Homo sapiens: one gene and its partner. The protein of the gene in region 2 purifies or fractionates together with the protein of the main gene of each other region. This does not show direct contact. Each region holds a gene or a part of one and is shown on either strand. Other genes may lie near its edges.

Region 1 (3,568 bases), on a different chromosome or scaffold from region 2:
GGCTCACGCCTGTAATCCCAGCACTTTGGGAGGCCGAGGCAGGTGGATCCCTTGAGGTCAGGAGTTTGAGACCAGCCTGGCCAACATGGTGAAATCCCGTTTCTACTAAAAATACAAAAATTAGCCGGGCATGGTGGCAGGCACCTGTAGTCCCAGCTACTTGGGAGGCTGAGGCAGGAGGATTGCTTGAACCCGGGAGGTGGAGGTTGCAGTGAGTCGAGATCACACCACTGCACTCCAGCCTGGGCAACAGAGTGAGACTCTTTCTAAAAAAAAACAAGAAAAAAAAAGAGCGAGTATTGCAACTACCAACTCCTTGGTCCTCAGCCAGGGCCTGACATAGGGCAGTTGCTTACTGCCAATGAATAAATGAATGAACAAATGAATGACTCCCTTTTCCTCTTTGGTCCCCAGGAAGCTCAGAGCTAGATTCACGGCTCCAGCTTCTGTTAGATTCCCCGTGCCCACCATGGGGCTGGAATCCTGTAGGTGCTCAATTATTGTGTGTTGACTGAGTGAGCAGGAGGGAGGGGCTCAGGCCCAGCTCACCCACCCTCGCCCCAGACCTCTCACCGTGACGCTGGAGTCATCCATGGCCTTGACAAAGGTGAGTGAGTCCATGGAAGCCGAGCGGATGGTGTCGGTGCGGCCCAGGTGAAACATGCGCAGGGAGGCACTTTCATAGGTGGCACATGCCTGTCCGTAGATCCTGGTGGGAAATGGGGCTAAGCACGCCCCTTGGAGGCGGGCACCCCCTCCCCTGCCCCCAGGTCTCCTCCCTCCTCCATGGGTGGGCCACAGAGGCGCACCTGTAGTAGGCCAGCTGCAAAGCCATCTGGATGAAGGCATCTGGGCTTAGCTTCTCCGACTTGGGGAAGTCTTTTCCAAAATGGTGGAACACCATCACGGTGATATCCAGGTCCTGGATCATGCTGGGGGTGTGGGAAGAGCAGGTGAGGAGCAGGCCCCGGCAGCCCCTGCCAACCCCACGGAGGGTCTGGGTGTCATGACAGAGCTGGCACAGGAGCCTCTCAAGCTCAAGGGCCTGGCCTCACCCATCCAGCACAGGGATGGCGGGGGCAGGCACTTACATGCTGAGGTTCTGCTTGGCCTTCTCGATGTCGCTCTTGATCTCGGGGGTGATGTTGAACCGCAGCTTCTTGGGCATGGGCAGGGGCACCAGGGGAGACCGCACAAGCTCGGGTTTCTTCCTGCACAGTAAACGGGGCCTCAGGCTCATGCTGGTGCCTCTAGAGCCTGGGTCCATTCTGGGACCAGGGTGGGGAGGATGGGTACCTGAAGCTGGAGGGGGCCAGCCCAGGGAGGTGTGAGTTTGTTCTGAAAACCACCCTCACTTCAGCTTTTTTTTCTTTTTTCTTTTTTTTTTTTTTTTAGATGGAGTCTTGCTCTGTTGCCCAGGCTGGAGTGCAGTGATGTGATCTCAGCTCACTGCAACCTTGGCCTCCCTGGTTCAAGCGATTCTCCTGCCTCAGCCTCCTGAGTAGCTGGGATTACAGATGCCCGCCACCTTGGCTAATTTTTTTCTTTTTCTTTTGAGACAGAGTCTTGCTCTGTCACCCAGGCTGGAGCAATGGAACGATCTCGGCTCACTGCAACCTCCACCTCCTGGGTTCAAGTGATTCTTGTGCCTTAGCCTCTTGAGTAGCTGGGATTACAGGCACCCACCACCACGCGTGGCTAACTTTTTTTTTTTTTTTTTTGAAACAGAGTCTCATTCTGTCACCCAGGCTAGAGTGCAATGGTGTGATCTCAGCTCACTGCAACCTCTGCCTCCCGGGTTCAAGCGATTCTCCTGCCTCAGCCTCCCAAGTAGCTGGGATTACAGGCACCCGCCATCATGCCTGGCTAATTTTTGTAGAGACAGGGTTTCACCATGTTGGCCAGGCTGGTCTTGAACTCCTGACCTCAGGTGATCCGCCTCCCAAAGTGCTGGGATTATAGGCATGAGCCACTGCACCTGGCCTAATTTTTTTTTTTTTTTTTTGAGACAGAGTCTTGCTCTGTCACCCAGGCTGGAGTGCAGTGGCACAGTCTCCGCTCAACGCAACCTCTGCCTCCTGGGTTCAAGCAATTCTCCTGCCTCAGCCTCCTGAGTAACTGGGATTATAGGCATGTGATACCACACCTGGGTAATTTTTTTTTTTTTTGTATTTTTAGTAGAGATGGCATTTCACCATGTTGGCCAGGCTGATCTCAAACTCCTGACCTCAATTGATCCTCCCACCTCAGCCTCCCAAAGTGTCAGGATTACAGGCGTGAGCCACCATATCTGGCTGGCTTCCTTGGAAAAAAACAGATTCCCAGGCACAAAGGAGAGTGATATTTCTCTATAAGCTGGTCTATCACCTGTGTGTCACCTGTCACTAGAAGCTGGGGAACTAGGCGAGAGATGTGACTGTACTCACGTGTACTCGATGACATAGTCCAGAAGGGTGACAATAGGGGGCCCCTCCGCTGCAGCATGCTCGTACACAAGCCCACAGGAGCCATCTTCTGCCACGATGAACTGTGGAAGGGAAGGGAGACCCCGGTCAGCCCCAGGGCCCTGGGGGGTGGCCCCTCACCCAACCACTCTTTGGTTGAGGCAAGGGCCTCTCTGAAGCCATCTCAAGGGGCTATGATGACTTATTACTGTTATTAACAATAGCTGACACTCACCAGGTGCCCTGGTGTGCTAAGCACATCCCACGCTCAGCGTGCCTGACTGAGTCCTTCAAACTACTCTACCGGTGAGGTTGACCATCACCCCATTTTACAGGTGTGGAGAGGGACTGTTGTGCCAGGATTGCACTGGTGACCCCGGATCCCAGGTTCTCTGTGAGGTGCTGAGGGGGTGTGCTGGGGGTGACAGCGGTTTCCAGGCCAGAGGCAGGACTGGTGATGACAGGCTGGCTGCCTGGTAATTACGGCAGCGTCCAGCCTGCTGGCTTCCTGCCTGCTTTACAAGCTAGGAGGCTGGGGACGCAGGGCCGGGGACGGGCAGGAAGTCCCGAGGCTGCAGAGGTCCTGTTCAGGTGTGTGTGAGTGGGCGAAGCCCTGCCGGGCCTCACCTGCAGCGTCTTGTCGAACCAGCGGTTGCCGCTGTTGAGCCTGCTGCCGCCCCCATGCAGCATCTGGCCTGCCACGTGGCTGCGGTACACGTCTTCTGAGACCCTGGGCATGGTTGCATCTAGGCACACGGTGAAGATGCTCTTCTGGATGGAGCGCACGGAATCCCGGTTCACCTTGTCTGCAGGTGGCATGGGGCGGGGAGACGCAAAATGGGGTCTCATGGTGTGGGAGAGATGGACCAGCCCCTCCGCAGCCTCCTGCCCTGGGCTCTTCTGACCCATTTGTACCTCTCTGGGATGAGGAGACCCCCCACCTCGCCGGCCCTCCAGGGCATTCACCAAGTGCAGGGTGTGGGTTCAGAGCTTCGAACTCAACAGGACCCTGCAGGCCCACAGCACTCCTCGAGGCAGGGCCCAACACCTGGCCCACTTTAGACACAGGAAACCGAAGCCCAGGGGTCACATGGGAGCTGGTGTGGCAGCCGGGGAACCCACAC
Region 2 (3,818 bases):
TTGCGCCACTGCACTCCAGCCTGGGTGACAAAGTGAGACCCTGTCTCAAAAAAAAAAAAAAAAGAAGGGACAAAAAACCCCTCCACAATTCTCTACAACCACCACCAACTGTCACTTTTCACAAGCTCCTTCTACTGCTAAATTTTGCTCCAAGCCGCCATCATCACTAGTGGCCAAATTCACTGATACTTAGTCATCCTGCAATTTCATCTTAGAGACTCTTTTCCCTACTAAGTTCTCTGTTCCTGCCAACTCCTCCTTTTCTGCTTTGATGCCCCTTCCCTTCCTCGGGTCTCCTTTCCAGCAAACCACCAGGTCATGATGATTTCTCCTCTGTACCATTTCCTTGGCATCCATCTCTCCCTTTCCATCCCGCAGTCATTACCCTAGTTCAGGTCCTTCTGTTTCTGCCATTATCTTCTAACTGACTGCAATGGCTTTCCCTCTCCAATACATTCAGAACACACAAGCAGCAGATTAAAATGGAGACACCATCTCACTTTCTTGTTAATCCTCTCTTACCCTACAGTCTTCCACTCTAACATTAAGGTATAGTAAGAGTTTCTTAAATTCCATATATTAGAAATGCTACTTCTGTCAATAGCTCTTCTATCTTGAATCTTGCAATCCTGCCTCACAATTTCAATGCTCCATGACGTTTCATATACTTTCAGAAAATTAAAGAAGTAGATACACAATTAAAAATAAACCCATATAAAAAAAATTAACCCATATAATGACCCGAAACAAAAATTCATTGGTCACTTTTGGAGGATAAACCTGTTACGGTAGTCTCCTCTTAGATAAGAGTTTCAGTTATCCAAGGTCAATCAAGGTCTAAAAATATTAAATAGAAAATTCCAGGCCGGGCGCGGTGGCTCACGCCTGTAATCCCAGCACTTTGGGAGGCCGAAGTGGGCGGACCACGAGGTCAGGAAATCGAGACCATCCTGGCTAACACGGTGAAACCCCGTCGCTACTAAAAAATACAAAAAAAATTAGCCTGGCGCGGTGGTGGGCGCCCCTAGTCCCAGCTACTCGGGAGGCTGAGGCAGGAGAATGGCGGGAACCCGGGAGGTGGAGTTTGCAGTGAGCAGAGATCGCGCCACTGCACTCCAGCCTGAGAGACACGGCGAGACTCTGTCTCAAAAAAAAAAAAAGAAAGAAAATTCCAGAAATAAACAATTCACAAACACACCGTTCTGCACAGCGTGATGAAATCTCACACTGGCCCACTCCATTCTGCTCAGGACATGAATCCTCCCTTTTGTCAGCAGGTCCACACCCTGCACACTAGCAACCCATTAGTCATCCACATTCTCTGCTTCTGACATCATGTCATGGCTTAGTGATCCAGGATCACCTGAAGCAGATGATTCTCCTTCAGACATGTAGTCTAAAACTACATCACAATGCTTTCTCATTCACCTCACTTCATCACGTAAGCATTTTATCATCTCACATCATCATAAAAAAAAAGGGGTGAGCACAGTGAAAAAGATATTTTGAGAGAAAGGCCACATTCACCTAACTTTTATTACAGTATATTGTTAAAATTGTTCTATTTTTAGTGATTGTTGTTAATTTCATACTCTGCCTAATTTATAAATTAAACCTTACCACAGAAATGTGTGTATAGGAAAAAGCATAGTACAGCACCGTGCAGGGTTCAGTACCATCTGTGGCTTCAGACATCCACTGAGGGTCTGGGAACATACCCCCATTGGATAAGCGGGGGACTATGGTATTTTAAAAACTGATAAATAAGGAGAACAAACCATTTAACTTTCCTTGCTGGGACAGGGCCTGTCAGGGTAATGAAATACTTGATGAGAAAGTTTCTCTTTGTAGATGTTTTCTAGCTGATAAATAAAGAAGGAGTAATTAAAATATTGTCATTTGTAAACTCCTAATGAGCCAGGTCATGATTGCCAATGGCCACTAATGTCTCCAATGTCTCCAGGCCACAATGTCTCCAGCAACACCACTATGAAGTACTTGTACCAAAAAATGTCTAACTTAAATCAGGCCTTGGATCTAACTACCATTTTATAGAGGAACATCTTCAACAAGCCCTGTGGAATATAATACCATCAGCAAAATCCACAAAATGCAAAGCTCCACAGAACCAATAGGCTAACCAGTTGCTTCAACAAATAATTTTCAAAAAAAAAAAAAAAGGGAAAGTAAACTTATAGATTAAAAAAAATAATAATATCCGGCTAGGCGCGGTGGCTCATGCCTGTAATCCCAGCACTTTGGGAGGCTGAGGTGGATCACTTGAGATCAGGAGTTGGAGACCAGCCTGGCCAACATGGTGAAACCCCGTCTCTACTAAAAATACAAAAATTAGCCGGGTGTCGTGGCATGCGCCTGTAATCTCAGCTACACAGGAGGCTGAGGCAGGAGAACTGCTTGAACCCAGGAGAAGAAGGTTGCAGTGAGCTGAGAATGCGCCACTGCACTCCATCCTGGGCAACAGAGACTCTGTCTCAAAAAAAACAAAATTAATATCCTTTTCCATCCATTCCAGCATAACTGGTACTAGAATTCCCACCTGTCTTAACCAATTAGACAAAATATGTGAAGCAACTATATCTTGGCACTGGATATTAGGCAATGCAGGACCATGAACCTTAAAAGAAAACAATACAACACATGAGCCCACACTGGCCTCAGCCACCCCCTAGAACTAACAGCAAAACACAAATAGATCCATCCTAACAGAGAATAAAAACCAAGCCTGAAAGAATCAAACAGATTTAACATATTGCCTGGCAGTTGTTTAAAACATATGTTAAAGAAAAACAACATAATCTCCACCAAGATATTATCTGTCATGCCACTTATAAAATTAAATATTACATGATTAGCCAGACATGGTGGTGTGCGCCTATAGTCCCAGCTACTTGGAAGGCTGAGGCAGGAGGATTGCTTGAGCCCAGGAGTTTGAGGTTGCAGTGAGCTATGATTGTACCACTGCACTCCAGCCTGGGTGACAGAACAAGGCCCTTCTCTTAAAAAAAAAAAAAAAAAAAAATTACATGACATGGGAAGCAGCAGGAAAACGTAATGTACAATAAAAAAAAAAACAGCAGTCAACAAAACAGAAACAGACTCTGAGGAGACCCAATAATAAAATTAACAGATTTTTAAAAAGCTGTTATAAATATGTATGTTCAAGTACTTAAAGGAAAAGATGAACATAATGAGTGAACAGGTGGGAAATCTCAACAAGAAATGGAAATTATAATGCAAATTCTAGAACTGATATGTACAACGTAAGAAGAAAAAAATGGCTCCCTATCTTTTAGAGATACACGGTAAAAAATCTACAGATGAAATAATATATCTGGAATGTGCTTCAAAATAATCCACCTGTGGGGAGGCAAAGTAACTGGGAGTATAGATGTAACAATAGTGGCCATAGGTTGATGACTATTGTAACTAGATGATGGCTACGTGGGAGTTCATTGTACTATTCTCTCTACTTTTGCATTATGTTTAACTGTCTCCATGTTCAAAAGCTAAAAAAGAAAATTCAGTCTCCGTAAAAACAAGCTGTTTCAGCTTAAAACTAGATGTTGTTCAAATGAAGTTCTGCATACACATAGTACTTCTCCCATCTTTGCCAAGTTCCCTAAGATATATAGCATCCACACTGATTTTTATGGATTTCTAATGCTTGAGGAAAGCGGGTATTTCATAGAAACTATAAATATTGGCCAGGCGCAGTGGCTCACACCTGTAATCCCAGCACTTTGGGAGGCCAAGGCAGGCAGATCACGAGGTCAGGAGATCGAGACCAGCCTGGCTAA

Evidence for each region.
Region 1: the proteins of METAP1D (region 2) and CRAT purify together in Homo sapiens (affinity purification with mass spectrometry; one large-scale study listed by BioGRID and IntAct). This does not show direct contact.

What each region holds. Positions count from the first base shown.
Region 1 is NC_000009.12:129,097,440-129,101,007, forward strand, and holds part of CRAT (carnitine O-acetyltransferase), read right to left. Parts: intron 3,251-3,568; coding exon 3,072-3,250; intron 2,528-3,071; coding exon 2,427-2,527; intron 1,212-2,426; coding exon 1,092-1,211; intron 933-1,091; coding exon 810-932; intron 710-809; coding exon 574-709; intron 1-573. UniProt on the Homo sapiens protein: Catalyzes the reversible transfer of acyl groups from carnitine to coenzyme A (CoA) and regulates the acyl-CoA/CoA ratio. Also plays a crucial role in the transport of fatty acids for beta-oxidation.
Region 2 is NC_000002.12:172,006,388-172,010,205, reverse strand, and holds part of METAP1D (methionine aminopeptidase 1D, mitochondrial isoform 1 precursor), read right to left. Parts: intron 1-3,818. UniProt on the Homo sapiens protein: Removes the N-terminal methionine from nascent proteins. The N-terminal methionine is often cleaved when the second residue in the primary sequence is small and uncharged (Met-Ala-, Cys, Gly, Pro, Ser, Thr, or Val).